Linked DNA regions of Homo sapiens. The protein of the gene in region 1 purifies or fractionates together with the protein of each later gene. This does not show direct contact. Each region holds a gene or a part of one and is shown in the gene's direction. Other genes may lie near its edges.

Region 1 (3,500 bases):
TTAAATTATCAGCAACTTGAAATGCTGGAAAATTGGGGTTTTGCCATATCACTCTGACAGTTGATGAGGAAAGGCGATTTTTCAACATTGAGACAAGAGACTTCATTTTTTTCTTTTTATTTCTTCCAAACAGATAGAACAGTTGAAACAAAAAGCAGATAAGAGAGTCAGAAGTGTAAGTACTTCTTTTGCAGTGGTAATTTTTTTTTCTTTTGTTAGGCTCTGTACTTCCATACAGTTTTTTTAATTGACTGACTAGAAACCAATTGTTGGCCTTTATTAAATAGTATTCCTTAATACATTTGTTGAAATTTGATGCAGTTAACTTTTGTTTTTATTTAAATAATTGGGACTAGAGGTTGGGAGGAATTTAGTCCATTTATATTGCCAACATAGGAAAATAATTATCCTCAATACAGCTCCTTAATGTGAAACCTATCCTTACAACTATGTTGTTGGATATGATGGCCACCAGCCACATGTGGCTGTTTTATTTAAATTTGTTAAAATTAAATCAATTTAAAAATTCAGTTTCTTGTTTGCATTCACTACATTGTAAGTGCTCACTCAGTAGCTACATGTGTCAAGTGCTGCTGCATTGGATACTACACATACAGAACATTTCCATCATGGCAGAATGTTCTTAGCCCTGCTCTAACTCTAATTCTTAGCTATGGGCTTGAAAAGAGGAGTAAGAAAAGCCTTGAGAACTAGAAACATTAGTTGCCTCCCAGGGAACTAGGTGGATGGGGAACTGGGAGGTTCCCCTAGAAGGGGAACTAGAAGGCTTGTCACTGGATATTTTGGATCTTGCTTTAAAATTTGAAATTCAGACTTAAAACTCAGATATCATGGGTGAATATTTAAAGGTTTCTTCTGATCACTGACGACAGGTTCGCTATAAAGTAATAGAAGATTATAGTGGTGCCTGCTGCCCTCTGAATAAAGGAATCAAAACCTTCTTCACAAGTCCCTGCACCGAAGAGCCTCGAATACAGCTGCAAAAAGGGGAATTCATTTTAGCCACAAGAGGTTTACGGTAAGTAATAGGAAGTACTGCATTTCTTCTTCAAGGACAAAATTAATATCTAGCCTAAAAAATTAATTTTCATCTTTTAAATATTTCAGATACTGGTTATATGGAGACAAAATTCTTGATGATTCCTTTATAGAAGGTATGGAAATGGAAGGGCATGTTTAAAGGACAAGACTATTAGCAATAATTCCAAATTTTACAAGAATAACTTTTATAAACCAATCATGCCTAATGCATTAGGGGAACTGCATAGAAGGGTATATCACTAAGCAACAAAAGGAACTTCCTTATATATTTCTCTATAGCTCTTGTATTTTTCAGGTCTTTTTAATGATAGCTAACATTTGAGCTCATAACTATGCGAAAAGTACTTGTATAAGTGCTACCCTTAAGGTGTAGAAGTCCCCAAAATACTTCGGAGGTAGGCACTATTATTTATATTTGATTGAGGGAACTGAAGCACAGAGAGGCAACTTGCCCATAGCTATGCACTGAAAACAGATGGAGCTAGGGCTTAACCCCAAGCAGTCTGACTCCAGATTCTATGCACCAAACCCCTGTACTATTTGCTGCCCCCACTTTGAGCATTTCTCTTAAGTTGTTATAAAAACCAGTAGATTGAAACTTTGTGTTTTTTTTTTTCTTAAGTTTTATAATTGTTTCTTTTTAAAGTAAAGATTAGCTCGGGATGTTCTTTAAAAAATAGTTGGGGTTAATCATAAATTAACCTCTTATGACGGCCGTGATATAGAAATGTATATGTTAGGCCAGGTGTGGTGACTCATGCCTGTAATCCCAGGACTTTGGGAGACCAAGGCAGATGGATCACCTGAGGTCAGGAGTTCAAGATCAGCCTGGCCAACATGGTGAAACCCTATCTCTACTAAAAATACAAAAATTAGCCGGGCATGGTGGTGTGTGCCTGTAATCCCAGCTGCTCCAGAGGCTGAGGCAGGAGAATTGCTTGAACCCGGGAGGCAGAGGTTGCAGTAATCTGAGATCGTGCCACTGCACTACAGCCTAGGTGACAGAGCAAGACTCCATCTCAAAAAAAAAAAAGAAAGAAATATATATGTTAGAAAAAGTCTAAAAAGGAAATTTACAAAGACTACAAGAAGATAGTTCCCTGGAAAAGACAGTGTGATGGTGTGCCAAAAACACCTTTCCTGATCATACACATATAAGTAAACACCCATACCGAGTTCCCCCTGACTCTAGTTAGGAGCTGTCTTTAACCACATTAGTCCCTATTCGGGATCATCAAATTTGGGAAATACCTGTTCCTAGCTTGTTATGAACATTTAAAAATCTTATTTTTTTCCCCTTCAAACTGTGCTTATAATAGATAGCAAAGTGGGGAATAAAAGTCTAACTACAAGCTTATTAATTTGAAGTAATAGGACTTACTGCTTTCAGTAATGTCACTGTCATCCATCAGACTATTTCACCTCAATTTCATTTTCTCCCTCAGGTGTTTCAAGAATAAGGGGTTGGTTCCCTAGAAAATGTGTGGAAAAGTGTCCCTGTGATGCTGAAACAGATCAAGCCCCAGAGGGGGAGAAGAAAAATAGATAGCTGCTGTTAAAACAAAATTATCCTTTAAGTCTGCTTAATTACTTGAAAATTGTACATATTACTAAAGAATTATGCAATGAGCCTACTCTGGTTAAGATGTTCTTTTCCTCAAAGGTGCCCTAGTGCCATGATTTAAATATTTTTATTACCATTTTGAAATGGAGAAGCCATTCTGCATATGCCTTTGAATTCCTGCCCCTCTTTACCACCTCTTCCTCCCCCTCAAAGGAAAAACATTTCATCCAAGTAAGTTAACGGCATTTTCTGTAGGATTTTCTTATGCACTGCACACTCTGGACCTCACCTGCAGATACAGTTCCCCCCTTGCCAGGAGCATCTGCATGTGGTACTTCTCTTTTCCCTCAGTTGATATTTCTTATATGATATTCTAGATACTATAGAACTCAATTTGTCAGATTCAGTATAACCTCAGATTTTGTTACCTGTCTTTTAAAAATGCAGATTTTGTCAAATCAAATAAAGATCAATGGATGTTGGGTATAATCAGTTTTTACTTAAAGCATTTTTCTTTTTGCTGACTAAAAAGGTTCATCTTAGTTCCTTATGGAAAAACTGCTCTGCTGCCCTGTGGACAACTGGCATCTTAAAACGTGGCTTAAGACATGACACACTTGCTTCAAGATATTAACCCTATTAATGGGATATTGCGGTCATAGTGATGGCAGCGGATGGCAGTGGTGGCCTGAGGGGTGTTGAGGGGGAGCCGTGATAGGCAGGAGCCAAGCGTAGCTACAGCTGTCCAGCCGTGGCTGCGGACCCGGGCATCCTTGTGCTCTAGGGGGCCGAGGGGAAATACCCCCCCCACACCCCCCCCCCAACAACTGCTTGGCCTCTTCCTGCTCCTGGCACTCGCTCTGGAGCAAAGGTG
Region 2 (3,500 bases), on another chromosome or scaffold:
ATTGTGGCTTGGCTTCTTCTTTTGTTTAAAATTAAACATGTTATTTTGAAATAATTGTAAATTCATATACAGTTGTAAGAAATAAAAGAGAGATATCGTGTACCCTTTCGCCATTTTCCCCATTTTGCAAAACTATAGTACAATACCACAAACAGGTAATTGACATGATTAGAATTCTGCAATCTTATTCCAATTTCTCCAGTTTTACTTGTACTCGTGTATTTTTGTGCATGTGTTTAGTTCTATGCAGTTTTATCCCATGTGTAAGTTCATGTATCTGTCTACACAGTCAAAATACAAAACAGTTTCATCACAAGGATCCCTCATTTTGCTTTTATATAACCATGCCCACTTCCCTTCCACCTCACACCCCAGTCTCTGACACTTGGTAATCACTAATCTGATCTCTATCTCTGTAATTTTGTCATTTCAAAAATTTAATATTAATGGAATTATATAGTATATAACATCAGAGACTAGCTTATTTTTTCATTCAGCATAATTCACTTAAGATCCATATAAGTTTTTGTAGCATCAATAGTTTATTTTTTATTGCTGAGTAGTATTCCATGGTATGAATGTACCACATTACATAACTGTTCTCCCTTTGAAGGACATCTGGGTTGTTTACAGGTTTTGACTATTATAAATAAAGCTGTGAACAGGTTTTTGTGTGAATATAAGTATTCATTTCTTTGGAATAAATGTCCAGGAGTATAATTGCTGGGTCATATGGTAGTCACATGTTTAGTTTTGTAAGAAATGACCTGTTTTCCAGAGTGACTGTACCATTTTATATTCCTGCCAATAATGTATGAATGATCCAGTTTCTCCACCTCCTCACCAGCATTAGGTGTTGTCACTATTTTTCATTTTAGCCATTCTGATAGGTGCATAGTGATCCCATTGTAGTATTAATTTACATTTCCCTGATGGTTAACGGGGTTGAGCATCTCATGTGCCATCTATTCCACTTCAGCGAAATGTCTGCTCATGCCTTTTGCCTATTTTCTAAATTGATTTTTTATTATTGAATTTTGAGAGTTCTTTTTATATTTTAAATACTACCAGTGTTTTATCAGATATGTAGTTTGCAAATATATTCTCCCAGTCTGTAGCTTGTCTTTCCATCCTCTTCGTAGGGTCTTTCAGAGAGCAAAAGTTTTTAGTTTTGATGAAGTACAATATATTGATTTTTTTGAAAACGATCTTGCTTTTTATAGTAAATCTAAGAACTCTTTGCCTAGCCCAGATCCTGAAGATTTTCTCCTGCTTTTTTTTTTTTTTTACATCTTTTTAAGCCTGATGCCCATTTTCGACTTAATTTTTGTAAAAGCTATGAGGTTTAGTTCAAGGTTTTTTTTTTGTTGTTGTTGTTGTTTTGTTTTTGTTTGTTTGTTTGTTTTTGCTTTTCTTGCCAAAGGATGTCTAATTGCTCTCGCACTATTTGTTGAAAAGGCTATTCTTCCTCTGTTGTATTGCTTTTGCACCTTTGTGAAATATCAGTTGGGCTTGGTTTTATGGGTCTGTTTCTGGGTTCTCCATTCTCCTCCACTGATCCATCTGTCAATCCCTCCACCAATATCACAGTGTCGCTATATAATTGGTCCTGAAATTAGAAGGCTGATTGCTCTGACTTTACTTTTCTTTGTCAATATTGTTTAGCCATTCTAGAGTCCATATCTTTATTTATTTATTTATTTATTTATTTTTTGAGATGGAGTCTCGCTCTGTTGCCCAGGCTGGAGTGCAATGGCACGATCTCTGCTCACTGCAGTCTCTGCCTCCCGGGTTCAAGCGACTCTCATGCCTCAGCCTCCCAAGTAGCCAGGATTACAGGCATGGGCCACCATGCCCGGCTAATTTTTGTATTTTTAGTAGAGACGGGTTTCACCATGTTGGCCAGGCTGGTCTCGAACTCCTGACCTCACGTGATCCGCCCGCCTTGGCCTCCCAAAGTGCTGAGATTACAGGCATGAGCCACCACGCCTGGCCAAAAGCCTGTATCTTTTAATATAAATTTTAGAATAAGCTTGTCTATAGCTATAGAAAACCTTGCTAGAATTTTGGCAGGAATTACATTAAACTTGTAGATCAATTTGGGGAGAACTGACATTTTTACTATATTGAGTCTTCCAATCCATGAACACAGTTGCCTTGGCTTTTATACTCTGTAAATCAACATTTATTGAGTGCCTACTAAATGTAAAACTAAGTTAAGGATAGTTGTAGAGCTCTTTAAGCTTTACTGAAATATAGGTATCATAATATAACTTGTTTATTGTGTTTTATTTCATAGGTCCCTGATGTCAAAGAAATGGAAAAAAGCAGCTTTACTGAGGTAGAGCAATCATAATATAACTTCATTTTTACCCTTAATGTGTTTTATTTAATAGCTCATTAGTTTCAAATGAATCAAATAAACCACAGAAGCTACTTTTGAGCCTTCCTTCTCACCTCTAACCCTCATCCTAAACACATACACTGGGTTTGATTCACTAAAAAATGAATTCATTGTTTGATGTTTGATAACTGCTAGAGGAAAAGATACAATTTGGCCAGTGACCCCGTGTATTCTAATCTGCTCTTTTTATTCTGATATTTATTTCAAAAGCCATTCCTTGGGAGCCAGAGCTCACTTTTAACAGCAGTTGTTTGCAATTGCTTATTCCCCATCAAAATCCTAATTTCTATTTGTGGCACAACAAATTGGTTGCTGTGGAGATAATTATGTAAAACTGGATTCAAGGGAGAACATGCAGCTAAGATCCAGTTTTTATAGGAACGTCTCTAATAATAAAGATGTGGGGAAGTGAAATCTGGGAATTTGGATCTTTAAACCAAATTATTTCTAAATAACTAATAAGGAATTATAGTTCTTTGCCAATATAAATCAGGAGAAATAATTTATAACTGAGACCTAAGGGTTGCACCTCTGAGAGAGGGCTTTACCATAGAGCTGCAGATTGAAAAGATTAAATGTCTCAAGTAATTTGTTTAATTAGGAAAAAAGTAAGTTTACTGTACAAAATTCTAGACCCTGGCTAAAGATTCCTTTATAAATAGCACTACTTAAAGTAGAAATTTGGTTGGATCAGAATTTAAAGAGGCCTAACATTTGAATTCGTTGGTACGTAGGAGGGCACTCCTGCAACACACAGGGTGTTAAATGACAGTATTGGTATCCCCCTCTAATCCCCAACTTTGCTTCAGTACATTGAATCTCCAGACGTGGAAAATGAAGTAAAGAGACTGCTGCGTTCGGATGCTGAAGCCGTAAGTACCCGTATCCTTTATACAAATATTTTCTGCATAGTCTGTTCTGCCCCATTTGTACATGCTGACGAAGCCTCACCTCTGGTGTTTGTGTGCCAGTCTTGATGTGTGGAACTTAAGATTCTTTGAAATGTTCTAGCTAGGAACAGTAAATTCATGTAATAGAAAATTATTTATTGTGTAATTCAATATGAGGCACTTCTCCAAACTAGGAATTCCAATAC
Region 3 (3,500 bases), on another chromosome or scaffold:
TAAAAGTACTTGCTGGGTTACACTAAATGAAACCTAAAAAACAAATAGATAAATAATAAAGGTTACACACAGCAGAAGCTTTGTTAACAAATTAACTTATATTAATAGTTGCTGCTGGGAAAACAAGCTGCTTGGTGACTTCCCTAAAGGGTGTCCCACGCATCTGGCGAATGAACAGACAGAGCTCCTGCTCCCGAGTGTCCTGGGAGGCACGTGGGCATGCCGCGTGGGTGGTCTGGGTGCTGCAGCGTGAGTTGTCCTGGGTGTGGAGTGTCAGTGCCTGCAGACCCACACTGCCTCCTCCTTCAGGGCTCACTGGCAGTTTTCTTTCCACCGCTTCAGTTTCCTACTTGAAGTCAGGTTTAAAAAGGAGAAGAATTGCACATTCCTCCTCAGTTTCTTAGAAACTTACCTTTGTGCCTGAGTCATTTCTAGTCCCTCTGGACCTGAGTCATATCTGTTCGCTGCTTTGTCAACCTTGTGCCCAGTTTAAGCTTTCGTAGTTGCTCCTTGTATGTGTGTTTTCAGGGTGTGGAGCGTTTTCTTTAAAAACGTCATTGCAAGCCATTACAGAAGAGGAAAGTCACATAGCTACAGAAGACATGGAAAAACAGATTTAGTGCCTGAAGTTTCTAGGAAAACTGGCAGTGCTGACAGCACTTATGATCACGCCCTAAGTGGAATCATCACCTGTGTGTCTCCTGCAGGCTGCTGTTGTCAGGAGGCAGCCTCTCCACCCCCTGCCCCGGCTGCCATTGTGGCTTCTACCCACCATTTTTCCTCCTAGATCTGTTTGGGGAGCACCAGTTCCTGAGCAGGGGCTCTGGCTGGTGGGCCTGTGCATCACCTGACCTAGAAGCATGTGGACAACTGAGAGTGGAGAGGCAGTTCCTGCAAGGAGCAAGGCGTGCAGTGTAGATGAAGAACCAGAAGCCTGGGTTCACTGCATCTCATCTGCCTTGCCTGGCTAGGCTGAAAGCTCCAGGGGCAGACTGAGCCTGCCCAGGCTCTCCAGGAACAGCTGATGATTCCTTGGGTGTCTTGCTTAGTGCTCCTGGCTTGACTTGACCTGGTCTTCTTGGCTCAGAAGCCCCTGCTTATTCGTGGGTTTCTCCAGGGGGCCGGGGAGGAGGTCGCACAGCCTGAGATGATGTATGCGTGCACTTGTCGTATCCCAGGGTTGTATTTCTAGATAATTTATCAGCAAAATGGAGGGGCTGGATGACTCTGCATCCCAGGCATGAACTTCATAACCCAGCAGTGGAAGGATGGTCCCAGAGTGGATGGGGACCAGGGTGGTTACAGTGTGTATGGCAGCTCCCGTGCATAGAAAAGTGACATCGGGCCAGGCGTGGTGGCTCACGCCTGCAATCCCAGCACTTTGGGAGCCTGAGGTGGGCGTATCACGAGATCAGGAGTTCAAGACCAGCCCGGCCAGCATGGTGAAACCCCATCTCTACTAAAGATAAAAAAAATTAGCCAGGCGTGTGGCGCACGCCTGTAATCCCAGCTACTCATGAGGCTGAGGCAGGAGAATTGCTTGAACCCGGGAGGCAGAGGTTGCAGTGAGCTGAGATCGCGCCATTGCACTCCAGCCTGGGCGACAGGGCGAGACTCTGTCTCCAAAAAAAAGTGACATCGAATACCATGAGATGCCTGCTGTTGCCTCTCAGCATCTCGGTGGGAGGACAGCACTGCCAGCGGCTCTGTCTGTTGCTGCAGGGGTGGCCCACATCTGCTGTGTCCACAGTGGTAGCCGCTCACCCACGTGACTGCCAAGCACTTGAAAGGTGGCTCATGAGACTGAAGAACTGAAGTCTTTATTTAATTCAAATGTAAGCAGCCATATGCGGTGACTGGCTACTGTAAGGCGCTGAGCGGTCACAGAGGTTTTCATTTCAGTCTTTCCATTCACACTCAAGTCTCCAGCCTTATCCAAAAGTTCATTGATGCCAAATCTTAGACCACATGGTTCGTGCGGGGAAAGTGGCTTCCAGGAGGCTGATGACCACAGTGGATAATACACCAAACACCAGAACATGGGACGCTTCTTTCTTTCTTTCCTTCTTTTCTTTCTTTTCTTTTCTTTCTTTCTTTCTCTTTCTTTCTTTCTTTTTCTTTCTTCTTTCTTTCTTTCTTTCTTTCTTTCTTTCTTTCTTTCTTTCTTTCTTTCCTTTCTTTCCTTTCTTTCCTTTCTTCCCTCCTTCCCTTCTTTATTTCTCTCTCTCTCCTTCCTTCCTTCCCTTCCTTCTTTCTTTTCTTTTTCTTTTCTTTCTTTTCTTTTTTTTGAGATGGAATCTCACTCTTGTCACCCCGGCTGGAGTGCAATGGCATGATCTCGGCTCACTGCATCCCTCCCGTCCTGGGTTCAAGCGATTCTCCTGCCTCAGACTCCCAAGCAGCTGGGATTATAGGCGTGCGCCACCACCCCCAGCTAATTTTTGTATTTTTATTTCTTTTTCTTTTTTTTTCTTTTTGAGATGGAGTCTCACTCTCCCAGGCTGGAGTGCAGCGGTGTGATCTCAGCTCACTGCAACGTTAGGATCACTGCAACCTCCGGCTCACTGCAACCTCCACCTCCTGGGTTCAAGCAATTCTCCTCTCTCAGTCTCTCAAGTAGCTGGGAGTACAGGCGCCCACCACCACGCCCAGCTAATTTTTGTATTTTTAGTAGAGACAGGGTTTCACCATGCTGGCCAGGCTGATCTCGAACTCCTGACCTCAGGTGATCTGCCCGCCTTGGCCTCCCACAGTGCTGGGATTACAGGCGTGAGCCACCGCGCCTTGCTTGTTTTTCACTTATTTTCTTTTTCTTACTCTCTGCAGGTCTCCTTTTTCTCTAGTACACATGTGAACCCGGCACAGGAACTGGATAGAAAACCTCTCGGCAAGGCCACATAGTCATGCACAGAACAGATGTTTGCTTAGCGCCTGCCCAAGGCCTCACCCTTAGTGAACTTGGGACAGTCCAAGAGTGTCAAAAGCACTGCCCTGAATGCTTTAGATCTAGTCTTTTCTTTGATCCTGAGAATGCCTTTGGAAGGTGTAAACAGCGGCCAGCTCCACAGGGACCAGCCTGCAGAAGGTGGGCTGCGAATACACCTGACCACAGCATCTTCCCTGTGTGTGTGGGCCTGCGTGTGGGTGGGGTGCAGGAGGAAGGGTGACAGTGCATGGGGCGAGAGTGCTTTCCCTTGTTTTTGGCCTGAGCAGGGGGTGCTGGGAGTTGCCATTCGTGGAGGTAGAGGCAAGTAGAGAAAACCAGGAGTTCCCTTCTGTGCAGGTGAATCTTGAGAGAACATTGTCTCGGTCAGGTTCCTAGCAGGACAGACGCACACTCAAGTGAGGATTGTAGGGGGCCTTGTTTGCAGAGGGACTCATTACAAAGGAGGGGCCAGCCCAGGGCCTGCTGCAGAGTGCAGGAGCAGGCCGCCCATGTCCCTCTAGCAGGAATGTGTCAAGCAGGCCACATGGAGGAGTGGAGCCTGCACAGGGCACAT
Region 4 (3,500 bases), on another chromosome or scaffold:
AAGGCTTCCTCACCCAACTTCCTTATACTCTGCATGCTCCAACTAGAGGCTGATTTATACACAAAAATCGGTAACACAAGCAGACTATGCTAACTACTTATGTATATAAAATAAAGAAACAATAATTGTTGACTTTCATATGAATAAGGAAAATGCAAATTATGACAACAATGAGATATAGTATTCCTTCACATGGGTTTTGCCAAATATTATATGTTTGTATAAATGACAAAAATATTACTGTAGCAAAAGTTTATTCACTGTCTATTATAAGAGATTTAGATTGCATTCCCAAAATAAAGTATTGCAAGAAGTAAAGGGAGAGGAAGGCTTCTGCTAAGTTGAGGATCGTTTCCCACATTCCTGTCCATCTCACCCCATTTGCTTCCTGTTGATGGCTTTGCTTTCCTATCTTTCAGGTGGAATGCATCCTTGGGACATCTTTGCATAGCCCCATCTAGGAAGAAGTTCTGTGATGTGTGAACTGTGAGTTTACTCAAACAAGTCCAACTCTTTATAAGACATAGGTAGACGTCAGGTCTGGAATGGAAGAGCCAACAGCAGTAGAAGGCCAGGTCCAGCTTCCAAGCCCCCACCAGGGCTCTCTCAGGAAGGCTGTGGCTGCTGCCCTGGCGCTGGATGGGGAATCCACAATGGGGCACAGGAAAAAGAAGAGGAAAGAGTCACGCCCAGAATCCATCATCATCTACCGCTCAGACAATGAGAAAACAGATGAGGAGCCCGGAGAATCAGAAGGTGGAGATCAGCCTAAAGAGGAGGAGGGAGATGATTTCCTAGACTATCCTGTGGATGATGGTAAGTCTCTCTAGCCCACTTGTTTAAAGCCATGGGAAGGAAACCAAAAGGGCATCTTCCAGAACAGACAGGCATATGCTCACTGTCCTATTTCTTCTTGGTGATACATTTCTTCTTGCAATATTACCACCTTTTATTTATTTATTTTGAGACAGAGTCTTGTTCTGTCACCCAGGCTGGAGTGCAGTGGCATGATGTCGCCTCACTGCAACTTCCACCTTCTGGGTTCAAGTGACTTTCCTGCCTCAGCCTCCTGAGTAGCTGGGACTACAGGCATGTGCCACCATGCCGGGCTAGTTTTTGTATTTTTAGTAGAGACTGGGTTTCACCATGTTGTCCAGGTTGGTCTCGAACTCCTGGCCTCAAGTGATCCACCTGCCTCAGCCTCCCAAAGTGCTGGGATTATAGGCATGAGCCACTGACCTGGTGCAATATTACAGTCTTCATTCAACAAATGGTCAGTATTTACTGAGCACCTATTACATTTTTTTCTAGATGATACAGAAATCTCCACCCTTTCAGAATTCCTAATGAAATGGAAGAGGCTGATTTATACGCAAAAACTGGTAACACAAGCAGACTATGCTAACTACTTAATGTATGTAAAATAAACAATAATTGTTGACTTTCATATGAATAAAGAAAATTATGAGAAAATTTGCCAGAAGAAAATCATATGGCAAATTATGACAACAATGAGATATAGTATTCCTTCACATGTAGGCTTGCCAAAAATTGGGTAAAATGTGATTACATCAATATGAGCAAATGGATATACTTCATGCACCTTAGTGAAAGTGGAAGCCGCTTCAACCACTTTGTGGAGGAAACTTGTCAACGTTTATTAAATATTTAGTAAAATTCACAGTTCAAAACATGCATACCTCATGACCCAGAAATTCTCAATATCTACTCCATGAAACTTATGCCCATGTTATCCTTGTATAAGGAGGCATATATAAGAACATTTGTTGAAGCTAATGCAACCATGATGTGTTTGTATTAAGAATTATTGTGGAGGCTGGGCACGGTGGCTCACACCTATAATCCCAGCACTTTGTGAGGCCAAGGCAGGCAGATCACGTGGGGTCAGGACTTTGAGACCAACAACAGGAGTTTGAGACTGGCCAACATGGTGAAACCCCGTCTCTACTAAAAATACAAAAATTAGCAGGGTGTGCTGGGGCATGCCTGAGGTCCCAGCTACTTCAAAGGCCGAGGCACAAGAATTGCTTTAACCTGGGAGGTGGAGAATCTGTGTTTCTAGAATGCAGAGGTTGCAGCAAGTCGAAATCCTGCCACTGCACTCCAGCCTGGGTGACAGAGCAAGACAACATCTCGAAAAAATAATAATAATTATTATTATTGTGCAGCCGTAGAGAGATGAGGCAGATCTATTTGTGTAGATGGATAGATCTCTAAGACATATGCTCACAGTGAACAAGATAAGCAATTTCTCTGCTCTCCTGCAGTTGACCTTCAGGGAAAGACAGATAGTGAACAAGTCAACAAATAAAAGATACTTTCAGGTAGTAGTATGAGTTCTAAAGATGACAAAACCATGCTGATGGGAAGATGAGTACTGGTGGAGGGTGGAAGGTGGTGGGGGAGAGACTGCATGGTTGTGAAAGGCTTCTCTGAGGAGGTGACATTTGAATTGATCCAAATGACATGAGGGAGCCACCATGAAAAGTTCTAGGGCAGAGTTTTTGGAGGAGGTGGAACAGCAAGGGCAAAGCCTCTGAGGTGAGAGCAGCTTTGGCCCATTTATGGAAAGGAGTTATTTCAGTGTAGGGAGTGTAGGAGATAAGAGGGAGGATGGTGAGAGGAGGACAGGAAGGTAGGCAGAGGCTGGATCATGGTGGCCCTTGCAGGTCTCGGTAAAGAGTTTGATATTTGTTTCAAGTGCAAGAGGAAGTCAATGGAGGACTTTTAAGCAAAGAGACATCATCTTGTTTATATTTGTAAAAGATCACTCTGGCTTCTCTATAAAGAATGAATTATAAGGGTTAAGACTGGATGCTGATGGGAGACTATTGTGTCCCTGCAGCCTCAGTAGCACTAATGGAGAAGTTCGGGTGATAGCAGGAGAAAGCTGGAGAAGAGAAGCTGGATTCAGGATGCAATCTGAACTTGCTGATTGATCAGAGGCAGGGAGTGAGGGAAAGAGAGGAATCAATAATGACTCCTGGGTGATTGACTGGAATGACAGGGAGGATAGATGGTGGTGGTGTTTGCTGTGATGAAGACTGTGAAAAGACAGGGCTTGGGAGACTGCACATTCCTTTTCTCTGGGTAAACAGAGTCCCTGCCACTATCCAGGGCCCTGCTCTTTAGGTGGCTTCATCTTATCTCTCAGTTGTGGGGCAAGGAGTCCACAGGGCCCAAGGTCCATGCCTGCCTAAAGGCTGTATTTTCCCATCCCCACCCAGACTTCTAGGGTGGCCAGCAGATAGCTATTTGGTTCTGTGTGGGTGCGTTGTGTGTGTGTGTGTGTGTGTATGTGTGGTGTGCGGTGTGGGTGTGGTGTATGTGGGGGTGTGTGCGCTGTTTGTGTGTGTCGTATGGTGTGTGTGTGTAATGTGTGGTGTGTGTGTGGATAGGCGTGGGTGGTATGGTATGGGGGAGTATATGGTGTACGTATGTGTGCGTGGTATGTATGTGGTATGTGTAGTGTGGTATGT
Region 5 (3,500 bases), on another chromosome or scaffold:
ACATGCCACCACGCCCAGCTAATTTTTGTATTTTTAGTAGAGAAGGGGTTTCACCATGTTGGCCAGGCTGGTCTTGAACTCCTGACCTCAAATGATCCACCCGCCTTGGCCTCCCAAAGTGCTGGGATTATAGGCAGGAGCCACCGTGTCCGTCCCAACCTGGTCACTTTCAAGAGGTCAGCAAGGCCCAGAGATGAAGGGACTGCCCGGAGCACACCCAGGCAGGCCCCCAAGGTCAAGCAGAAGCGACCTGCAGGACTTCCGGGGAAAGGAGGGTGGCTCCGGGTCGTGCTGTGTGTCTGCCTGTAAATCTGCTCTGTGGCTCATTGAGGGGCCAGATAACTTTTGGGTGCCAGGAGCAGAGAATTGTGCAAGCATGTATTATGGTCTGTAATCATATTAATAAGGGAGAAGTGGACGGGCCCTGGCTTCCTCCTCTGTATAGTGCTGGGTCAATCACAACAGTCTCAGGGTTGGGCATGAGCAAGAGCGTATTCTGGAAGTCAGCAGGCCAGGTGCACCTGTGGGCAGGGCCGGGTCTGGGTCTGTTTCTGTTTCATTTTTGGGCTTGAACTAAGGAGCCCTGTGGCTTTGGCTGCTGTCTCCCCACAGGTGCCCGAGTGGAGGAGTTCCTGTATGAGAAGCTGGACAGGAAGGTCCCCTCAAGGGTCACCAACGGGGAGCTGCTGGCTCAGTACATGGCAGACGCGGCCAGTGAGCTGGGGCCGACCACCCCCTATGGTGAGCAGGCCTCACAGCCAGGGACTAGGGGTCATGGTCTTTAGCTCTGATTCTCCCTCCCTCCCTTCCTTTTTTTTACTTAAAAAAATAATTATACAAATAATACCTGAATTCATTCTAAATGTAAAAACTCTACGCAGAAAAAAAGAGTAAAAAATGGAATCTTCTCTTAACCAGTTTTGGTTTGTGTGTGTGTGTGTGTTTTGTTTTTGTTTTTTTTTGAGATGGAGTCTCGCTCTGTCGCCCAGGCTAGAGTGCAGTGGCGTGATCTCGGCTCACTGCAAGCTCCACCTCCTGGGTTCCCGCCGTTCTCCTGCCTCAGCCTCCCAAGTAGCTGGGACTACAGGCGCCCGTGACCACGCCTGGCTAATTTTTTTTGTATTTTTTAGTAGAGACGAGGTTTCACCATGTTAGCCAGGATGGTCTCGATCTCCTGACCTCGTGATCTGCCCGCCTATGCCTCGAAAACTGCTGGGATTACAGGCGTGAGCCACCGCGCCCGGCCTATTTTTTTTTTTTTGAGACACAGTTTCACTCCATCACCCAGGCTGGAGTGCGGTGGTGCGATCTCAGCTCACTGCAACGCCCCTGCCTCCCAGGTTCAAGTGATTCTCCTGCCTCAGCCTCCCGAGTAGCTGGGACTACAGGAGCCCGCCACCACACCCAGCTAATTTTTGTGTTTTTAGTAGAGGCAGGGTTTCACCATGTTGACCAGGCTGTTCTCAAACTCCTGACCTCAAGTGATCCGCCTGCCTCAGCCTCCCAAAGTGCTGGGATTACAGGTGTGAGCCACCGCACCTGGCCTATTTGTGTGTATTTTTTAATGGAATCATATTGTGTGCTATCTGGGAACCTGACTTTTTTTTTTTTTTTTTTTTTTTTTTGGAGATGGAGTTTTGCTCTGTTGTCCGGGCTGGAGTGCAGTGGCGCAATCTCAGCTCACTGCAACCTCCGCCTCCTGGGTTCAAGCAATTCTCCTGCCTCAGCCTCCCAAGTAGCTGGGATTCCATGTGCCCACCAGCACACCTGGCTAACTTTTTTGTATTTTTAGTAGAGACGGTGTTTTACCATGTTGGCCAGGCTGGTTTCCAACTCCTGACCTCAAGTGATCTGCCCGCCATGGCCTCCCAAAGTGCTGGGATTACGGGCATGAGCCACCGCACCCGGCTGGAACCTGACTTTTTAACTTGACATCATATTACAGGTATCTTTTCACTGAAGCATTTATAGAACCATATCCATCTTTTTTTTTTCATTTTAAAATTTTATCCAAGTATAAGCTATATATTATGTGTTTAAGTGTATAATTCAATGATTTTTAGTAAATTTACAGAGTTGTACAAACATCTCCACAATCTAACTTTTTTTTTTTTTTTTTTTTTGAGGCAGAGTCTCACTCTGTCACCCAGGCTGGAGTGCGGTGGCGCAATCTCAGCTCACTGCAACCTCTGCCTCCTGGGTTCAAGCATCCCGGGTCCTCCCTCAGCTACCCAAGGAGCTAGGATTGCACACGCCCACCACCACTCCCAGCTAATTTTTGTATTTTTAGCAGAGACCGGGTTTCACCATGTTATCCAGGCAGGTCTCGATCTCCTGACCTCCGGTGATCCACCCGCCTCAGCCTCCCAAAGTGCTGGGATAACAGGCGTGAGCAACTGCGCCCAGCCAAACTTATTTATTTTTTATTTTCTGTTACCTTTTTTGAGACAGGGTCTGGCTCTGTCCCCCAGGCTGGATTGCAGTGGTGCAATCTCAGCTCACTGCAACCTCTGCCTTTTGGGCTGAAGGCATCCTTCCACCTCAGCCTCCTGATTAGCTGGGATTACAGGTGTCCACCACCATGCCCTTCTAATTTTTATATTTTTCTGTAGAGATGGGGATCTCGCTATGTTGCCCAGGCTGATCTCAAACTCCTAAGCTGAAGTGACCTCCCACCTTGGCCTCCCAAAGTGCTGGGATTACAGGAGTGTGCCACCGTGCCCGGCCCACAGTCTAATTTAAAGAACATTTCCATCACACCCCAAAAGTCCTTCATGTCTATTGTCAAGCCCCATTTTCACCTCCAGCCAGCCAACCACTAACGTGTTTTCGGTCCCTATAAGTTCATTTTTTCTGAACATTTTATATAAATGGAATCATATGACATGTTGTTTCTTGCATTTAGCTGCTTTTACCTAACATAATTTTTTTTTTTTTTTTGAGATGGAGTCTCACTCTGTCACCCAGGCTGGAGTGCAGTGGCACAATCTCGACTCACTGCAAGCTCCTCCTCCCGGGTTCATGCCATTCTCCTGCCTCAGCCTCCCGAGTAGCTGGACTACAGGCGCCTGCCACCACGCTCGGCTAATTTTTTGTATTTTTAGTAGAGATGAGGTTTCACCATCTTGGCCAGGCTGGTCTTGAACTCCTGACCTCGTGATCCACCCGCCTCGGCCTCCCAAAGTGCTGGGATTACAGGCATAGCCACTGTGCCTGGCCTCAGGTAAATTTAACTTAACTCTTTTTTTTTTTTTTGAGACGGAGTCTCTCTCTGTCACCTAGGCTGGAGTGCAGTGGCGCAATCTTGGCTCACTGCAACCTCCGCCTCCTGGGTTCAAGCAATTCTCTTGCCTCAGCCTTCCAAGTCGCTGGGATTACAGGCACCCGCCACCATGCCCAGCTAATTTTTTGTGTTTTTAGTAGAGACGGGGTCTCACCATGTTGGCCAGGCTGGTCTTGAACTCCTGACCTTGTGATCCGCCCGCCTTGGCCTCCCAAAG
Region 6 (3,500 bases), on another chromosome or scaffold:
TCCTGTTTCCTAAAGTTTTCGTATTCTCAATTTCATCAGCAGGCGGTGGTCATCCAGAGGCTTTTGAGTCATCAACTCCTTTACATCAAGCAGAGGATTCTCAGGTCCGCCAGTACTTCCCAGAGACCTGGCTCTGGGATCTGTTTCCTATTGGGTAAGTGATGACTCAAAAGTACAGTAAAGGGCCAGGTGCATGGCTCACGCCTGTAATCCCAACACTTTGGGAGGCTTAGGAGGGAGGATCACTTGAGACCAGGAGTTCAAGACCAGCCTGGGCAACATAATGAGCTTCTGTCTCTACAAAAGAAATTAAAAAAATAGCCAGATGGTAGTTGTGTCCTACTTGGAAGGCTGAGGTGGAAGGATCACTTGAGTCTGGGAGGTGGAGGCTGCAGTGAAGCAAGATCACATTGCTTCACTCCTGCTTGGGTGACAGAGCAAAACCCTTCTCAAAATCAACAACGACAACGACAACAACAAACCCAGAAAAAAAACAGTAAGATTCTGCAATGTAGAGCCTGTAGAAAACTCAGAATCAGACGCATTCCTAATGGATCTAAATCTTAAGCAAAGAAAGCTTGATGGGGTGTGGGAATTTATTTATTTTCCGGAATTCTTTTTTTCTTTTTATTTTTAAGACAGAGTCTTGCTCTGTCACCCAGGCTGGAGTGCAGTGGCATGATTTTGGCTCACTGTAGGCCTCAACCTCCTAGGTTCAAGCAATTCTTGTGCCTCAGCCTCCCAAGTAGCTGGGACTATAGGCACATGCCACCACACCTGGCTAAGTTTTGTATTTTTAGTAGAGGCAGGGTTTTGCTATGTTGGCCAGGCTAGTCTTGAACTCCTGGCCTCAAGTGATCCACCCGCCTTGGCCTCCCAAAGTGTTGGGATTACAGGTGTGAGCCACTGCGCCCGGCCTACCTGAATTCTTCATGCATTCATATACAACCACTCAAAACAAATCCACACAATTCCACACTCACACATTGCAGGCCCTGTGTTCTCACTACAGAACCACACACATTTAAAGGTATATATTGACATCAATTTTTGCTCACTGCTTGCATATCCATTTTGACAAGCCCTGAGACCACACATCCTCAGACTCAGAGGGCACCAGCCTCTCTGTCAGATGTGCTTGCACAGAGATGCCCACCCCGACTCCCCACCATAGTCCCCCTCCTCCGTATGAGTGCAGCCTCACTCACACTGAGACTCACCTGTTCAGTTGCCTCTTTACTTCTCCCCATACAATAACAATAACAATTTTACTTCTGCAGATGAATTTGTAGCTTTTTTTTTTTGGACAGGGTCTTGCCCTGTCACCCAGGCTGGAGTGCAGTGGTGCAATCATAGCTCACTGCAGCCTCAAACTCCTGGGCTCAAGCAATCCTCCTGCCTCAGCCTCCTAAGTAGCTGGGACTATAGGCATGCACCACCACACCTGGCTAATTTTTAAATTTTTGGTAGAAATAGGGTCTTGCTATGTTTCCCAGGCTGGCCTCAAACTGCTGGGCTGAAGCTATCTGCTCACCTCAGCCTCTCAAAGAGCTGGGATTACAAGTGTAAGCCAGCACACCCCACCGAATTTGTGGCTTAATTCACAAATGTTCTCCTTGCCCCACGCTACCTCTGCCTCATGTTGGTCCTTGTGTTTTCACAGTAACTCGGGGAAGGAGGCGGTCCACGTCACAGTTCCTGACGCCATCACCGAGTGGAAGGCGATGAGTTTCTGCACTTCCCAGTCAAGAGGCTTCGGGCTTTCACCCACTGTTGGACTAACTGCTTTCAAGCCGTTCTTTGTTGACCTGACTCTCCCTTACTCAGTAGTCCGTGGGGAATCCTTTCGTCTTACTGCCACCATCTTCAATTACCTAAAGGATTGCATCAGGGTGAGAGCTGGGGATACAGGAATCAGGTGTCAGCCCTGGAATCACACCTCCCCCATAAGTTTGTCTCTAAATTGGAAGCATCCCAATTTTCCCTGGGAAAGAGAGGAGATGTCGGCGTCTCAGCCCCCAGGTTTCCCCAGGCCTCTATGCACTACCTCCTTTGTTTGTACCCTTTGTCTCTTAAACATCCTCCGTAGGTTCAGACTGACCTGGCTAAATCGCATGAGTACCAGCTAGAATCATGGGCAGATTCTCAGACCTCCAGTTGTCTCTGTGCTGATGACGCAAAAACCCACCACTGGAACATCACAGCTGTCAAATTGGGTAAGAGAGGGAAGTGGTAGACGGGCGAGGAAAGCCAGCAGCAGAAGACCAGTGACTGAGCACTCAGTCTTTTCCTCTGCCACATCTGCTTTGCTTCCTCCTCCATTTTCCACTATTTTTCTCCCTCCTAAGGCTGTTATAAGTCAATACACAAACACTCTTTGATAGGTGACCAAACAAATTTGTTCAAACCGGAATATTTTGAGTGTGAAAGGGAGAGCTTTTAATATTTATAGCTGGACAAGGAATACATGGTCATGTAACTAATCAAGGACTTACTATAAGAGTCCCTGGGCCAGGCACTATTCTAACTGCTTTACATATATTAACTCATTAAATTGATTGACTAATTAATTTTTATTTTATTTATTTATTTTTGAGAGGAAGTCTCGCTCTGTTGCGCAGGCTGGAGTGCAGTGGTGCAATCTGTGCTTACTGCAACCTCCACCTCCTGGGTTCAAGTGATTCTCCTGCCAAGCCTCCCAAGTAGCTAGGATTACAGTCGCGTGCCACCCTACCCGGCTAATTTTTGTACTTTTAGTAGAGGTGGGGTTTTGCCATGTTGGCCAGGCTGGTCTCAAACTCCTGACCTCAGGTGACCTGCCTGCCTCGGCCTCCCAAAGTGCTGGGATTACAGGCGTGAGCCGCTGCGCCTGGCCTTTTATTTTTTTTTAGAGAGACAAGATCTTACTCTGTCACCTAAGCTGGAGTACAGTGGTGTGGTCATTGCTCACTGCAGCCTCAACCTCCCAGGCTCAAGCGATCCTCTCACCTAGGCCTCCGGAGTAGCTGGGACTATAGGCTCATGCCACCACCATGCCTGGCTAATTCAGTTGGCAGAGAAGCGGTCTTGCTCTGTTGCCCAGGCTGTTCTCAAACTCCTGGGTTCAAGTGATTCTCCCGCCTCACCCTTCCAAAGTACTGGGATTACAAGAATGAGTCACTGCACCTTTAACTTGTTTAATCCTCACCCCCAACCCTATGGGATGTCAGTCACTCATAGATTAAATCCTTGCAACTCAAAGTTTGATTTTCATATGTATGAGTTATCTCATGTTGCTTGACAAATTATTGTAAAACTTAAGTGTCATAAAAGGACAAACATTATCAAACAGATTCTATGGGTCATTAATCTGGGTGCAGCTTAGCTGGGTACCTCTGGCTCAAGGTATCTCATGAGGTTGCAATCAAGCTGTCAGTCAGGACTCTGGTTTCATCTGAAGACTCGACTAGGAGAGGATTGATTTTTCAAGCTCATCCCAAAGTCTCTGATCCTTACAGGCT
Region 7 (3,500 bases), on another chromosome or scaffold:
GAATTTCTTGCCTCACCTGACTAAAAAGTTGAGCAAGATAAGCTTCAGGTACAACCTGACCCAGACTGCAAATGATGTTGCTAGGACCTGGTTCCACCCATTTCTTGGCTCTGCTTCTTTTGCACTGACTCCAGTCTCTAAGCTCTCTCCCCTGTGGGAGCCACATTGCTGCAGCCTCTCTTCACCTCCACCTAGGGTGAGGTCTGCTGGGAAAATAGGAGAGTTATTTCCAGTACCTCTCCCAAAAGTCCTAATGTACACTCCGACTTGGAGGACCTTATGGTGACCGCGTCATGGGGGACCACAAGATGCACCCAACCCTAAACCAATCACTGCGCCCAGGGGAATGTGAAGGTGTGATTGGCTCAGGCTGGGCTGTGTGCTCTGCCCAGACCAATGGACACAGTGTGGGGGAGGCATAGGTCCCCAGAGGGAAATCTGCAGCTGTTGGGAACAAGGAGAGAAGATGTTAGCATGTGTGGGGAAGAATATTTATCCTCTGTGTGATCATTCTTAGCAAAGAGTAGTTCAAATTATTTGTGGAGCTGCTTGGAGGCTGGGGTGAAATGGGTTCAGCCAGTGTCTGGAAACCTCACAAAGTCATTTTCTAAGTAAGCACTCAGGGTGAAGAGAGCTTGTAGCATCTTTAGTGTGGTCCATGAAAGAATATGTATAAAGGCAAACTCCTCCGAAAACCTTGTCCAAAAGCTAGTATTGTACTAAAGAATAGTAAGGATTGGGTTTATAAAATATCTTAGGCCAATTCACCTGTAGTCCACACCATAATTTCAGAGGAAAATTTTCAGGCAGTGGTCAACTACATTTAGATAAACGTTTTCCCAAGTGGTTATACTAGAATTTTTGCTTCAGTTGCCCAGTGTTTATTGGGATTCAGAGATGAGACACTCTCCAGGAAACTAGCAGGGAAGATGTGAAAGCAAATACACCACCACATGAAGAATCTTGCTATAATGGACATGCATACAAAACAAAGCAGCAATGCAGACTTCATTCTGCTGTCACAGAAGCCTTACAGAGGTGACAGTTAATGCCTTAGTGAGTTTTGAAGGATGAATAGGAGTACACCAAAAGGGAAAGAGATGGCGGATGTTTCACACAAGAGGAAGGGTGTGAGCAACGTTTTAGTGACCTGACATAGCATTGTATGCTTTTGGAGGCAGTGCAGATTCAGGCTTGTATTCCAGCAGTCCCTCTAATCATGTTGTATAGCTCTCCAAACTTGTTTATCCATTTATAAAGTACAATTCCTCTCTCATGGATTGTTAGGAGAATTAAACAGAAATGCAAAGTACTCAGCTCTGCTACAGTAAGAGCTGAACAAACCTTTGCCATTGCCATTATAGTCTGGCAGGAGTGCTGTGGGTGATGATTGAGGAGGGGAGAGATTAGGAGTCAGATCATGAAATGCTTTGATTGCTATAGTAGGGAGCATGGCTCTTATCCTAAAGGCATTAGAGAGCCTTGTAAATGGCTCTGAAATGAAGGATCAGATTTGTGTCACCGTGGGAAGGATAAAAAGTCCACCTGGGGGACTACTGCAGAAACCCAGTGAAGGAACGATAAAGACATGAAGTTGTAAGTCCTGATGGTTCTGGTGGTGGGGGGTGGCTATGTGACAGACAGAAGAGATATTTAGGAGTAGTCCTAGAGCATCGCTGGGTACAAACTCAGCCAGTTGCTGTGACTGACCAAACAGGCCCCTGGCTTGTAACCCCTAGGACCAGGCCTGATACTTTATAGATTTTGTCCTGCTTAATTCTCCCAATAACAAAAACATTTTCCCAGGTGCCCAGCTCCAAAGCCTATGTCCTTCCTCACTGTGAAGGAGAGTGACAAAGCTGGATGGGTCCTTCCGTCTCCCATCCTACTCCATGCCTAGCAGGGTGCCCAGCACTGAATGGCAGCTAATATCTATTTGAGAAAACAATGAAAGCAAGTGCCTCATACCATTCCCCATGTCTGGGGTAACTTCTCCCACCCCACTGCCTGTGCAAGCCCTCCCCACCTCTCAGAACCCAGTCCCCAGCCCATCTCACCATGTCAGCTTGCTCCACATCCTCAGCCCACAAAGCTTTCCCTGGCGCCGAGGGGGCAGAGAGAGCCTCCTGGGCATCCTGAACGATTCCTTCGACCCTCAGCCCTGCTGCTGGTGGCCTCTGTGCCAGCTCTACGGTCAGAGGTCAGGGTGTGGCTTCCTAAGACATTACTGCTTTATGGACAGTCTGGCTTTGAGTTAGTGTGGCTCTTGTTGAGATCCCAAAATATAGTTTGGCTTTTCCCCTGCATCAGTTTTCTTTCCAGGAAACAGAAAATGGAGTTTCTCGGAGTCTGGGGTGAAGGGGACTGAAGTGATGCTGCCCCATTCTCACCAACCACCCACAAGGGTCCTGGCCCCAAGCGGGTGAATTCCTTGCCTGCCTGGACCATTCTCAAAGTCAGGGCAGCTTTGGCTTCCTCTCCATTTTCAAGTTTTCATACCTTATCAGGGCAGTCTGACTTTGAAGCATCATTTTCCCTGGAGTCCTCAGGGCTCTCAATGAAGCATGAATCCCCCTGTCCTGGGGTGAGGATGCAGATGAGGGCCTGGTGGGTGTGTGGTGTGGCCCTTCTCCCATTTATGTCATGAACTTTGGCAGACTTGTACTATTTGGGTGCTCTGTCCCCATCTCCACCCCTGTGGGTCAATGCAAACAGAACAACTCCTCACATTTGTGAGGGCCCCACGAGGTGCTTGTCTATGCCTTAGATTATTTGAGTGACAGTGGCCTTATGACTGAGGTAGGGGCAGTATTACTATTTTTAAATAATATTTTCTCCTGCATGTTTTTGTTTAAATGTGGGAACTCTAGGAAGTACATAGAAGAAAAAAAAAAGGGCTGTTTTCCCATCATGTTTGCTCTTCTGTACTCCCCCAGTGTCTACCCTGCTGTTAATCATCTTTGTTATTCTCCAGGACAGATATTTTTTGAGATGGAGTCTCACTCTGTTGCCCAGGCTGGAATGCAGTGGCGCGATCTTGGGTCACTGCAACCTCCCACTCCTGAGTTCAAGTGATTGTCATGCCTCAGCCTCCTGAGTAGCTGCGATTATAGGCACGCGCCACCACGCTCACCTAATTTTTGTATTTTTAGTAGAGACAAGGTGTCACCATGTTGGCCAGGCTGGTCTCAAACTCCTGACCTCAGGTGATTGGCCTGGCTTGGCATCCCAAAGTACTGGGATTACAGGCCTGAGCCACTATGCCCAAACTTTAGGAAAGATAGTATTATCTCCATTTTATAGACAATAAAAGTTTAAGCTCAAAGTCATATAACTAATAAGCGGCACAGTTATAAGGAGAATGTGCACAGTTCTTCTCATCACCAGTCTAATGCAATAGTAGGACTTCAATGCACAATTGTTGAATTCAGAAAGATAAATAAGACTATTTGTTTATTTATTTATTTATTTATTTATTTTGAGACAGCGTGTCATTCTGT

Evidence for each region.
Region 2: the proteins of ZDHHC6 (region 1) and TAF7L purify together in Homo sapiens (co-immunoprecipitation; one large-scale study listed by IntAct). This does not show direct contact.
Region 3: the proteins of ZDHHC6 (region 1) and IMPA2 purify together in Homo sapiens (affinity purification with mass spectrometry; one large-scale study listed by BioGRID and IntAct). This does not show direct contact.
Region 4: the proteins of ZDHHC6 (region 1) and TMEM169 purify together in Homo sapiens (co-immunoprecipitation; one large-scale study listed by IntAct). This does not show direct contact.
Region 5: the proteins of ZDHHC6 (region 1) and SH3GLB2 purify together in Homo sapiens (affinity purification with mass spectrometry; one large-scale study listed by BioGRID and IntAct). This does not show direct contact.
Region 6: the proteins of ZDHHC6 (region 1) and A2ML1 purify together in Homo sapiens (affinity purification with mass spectrometry; one large-scale study listed by BioGRID and IntAct). This does not show direct contact.
Region 7: the proteins of ZDHHC6 (region 1) and SDR9C7 purify together in Homo sapiens (affinity purification with mass spectrometry; one large-scale study listed by BioGRID and IntAct). This does not show direct contact.

The regions. Positions count from the first base shown.
Region 1 is NC_000010.11:112,429,915-112,433,414, reverse strand, and holds the end of ZDHHC6 (palmitoyltransferase ZDHHC6), read left to right. Parts: intron 1-133; coding exon 134-175; intron 176-893; coding exon 894-1,039; intron 1,040-1,128; coding exon 1,129-1,175; intron 1,176-2,507; coding exon 2,508-2,611; 3' UTR 2,612-3,115; downstream 3,116-3,500. UniProt on the Homo sapiens protein: Endoplasmic reticulum palmitoyl acyltransferase that mediates palmitoylation of proteins such as AMFR, CALX, ITPR1 and TFRC.
Region 2 is NC_000023.11:101,277,835-101,281,334, reverse strand, and holds part of TAF7L (transcription initiation factor TFIID subunit 7-like), read left to right. Parts: intron 1-2,299; coding exon 2,300-2,341; intron 2,342-3,213; coding exon 3,214-3,286; intron 3,287-3,500. UniProt on the Homo sapiens protein: Probably functions as a spermatogenesis-specific component of the DNA-binding general transcription factor complex TFIID, a multimeric protein complex that plays a central role in mediating promoter responses to various activators and repressors.
Region 3 is NC_000018.10:12,005,507-12,009,006, forward strand, and holds part of IMPA2 (inositol monophosphatase 2), read left to right. Parts: intron 1-2,831; exon of another isoform or gene 2,832-2,903; coding exon of another isoform or gene 2,904-3,085; intron 3,086-3,500. UniProt on the Homo sapiens protein: Phosphatase that can use myo-inositol monophosphates, myo-inositol 1,4-diphosphate, scyllo-inositol-1,4-diphosphate, glucose-1-phosphate, beta-glycerophosphate and 2'-AMP as substrates in vitro.
Region 4 is NC_000002.12:216,095,419-216,098,918, forward strand, and holds part of TMEM169 (transmembrane protein 169), read left to right. Parts: intron 1-419; 5' UTR 420-545; coding exon 546-816; intron 817-3,500.
Region 5 is NC_000009.12:129,018,332-129,021,831, reverse strand, and holds part of SH3GLB2 (endophilin-B2), read left to right. Parts: intron 1-612; coding exon 613-741; intron 742-3,500.
Region 6 is NC_000012.12:8,850,121-8,853,620, forward strand, and holds part of A2ML1 (alpha-2-macroglobulin-like protein 1 isoform 1 precursor), read left to right. Parts: intron 1-39; coding exon 40-154; intron 155-1,663; coding exon 1,664-1,892; intron 1,893-2,089; coding exon 2,090-2,216; intron 2,217-3,500. UniProt on the Homo sapiens protein: Is able to inhibit all four classes of proteinases by a unique 'trapping' mechanism. This protein has a peptide stretch, called the 'bait region' which contains specific cleavage sites for different proteinases.
Region 7 is NC_000012.12:56,924,409-56,927,908, reverse strand, and holds part of SDR9C7 (short-chain dehydrogenase/reductase family 9C member 7), read left to right. Parts: intron 1-3,500. UniProt on the Homo sapiens protein: Plays a crucial role in the formation of the epidermal permeability barrier.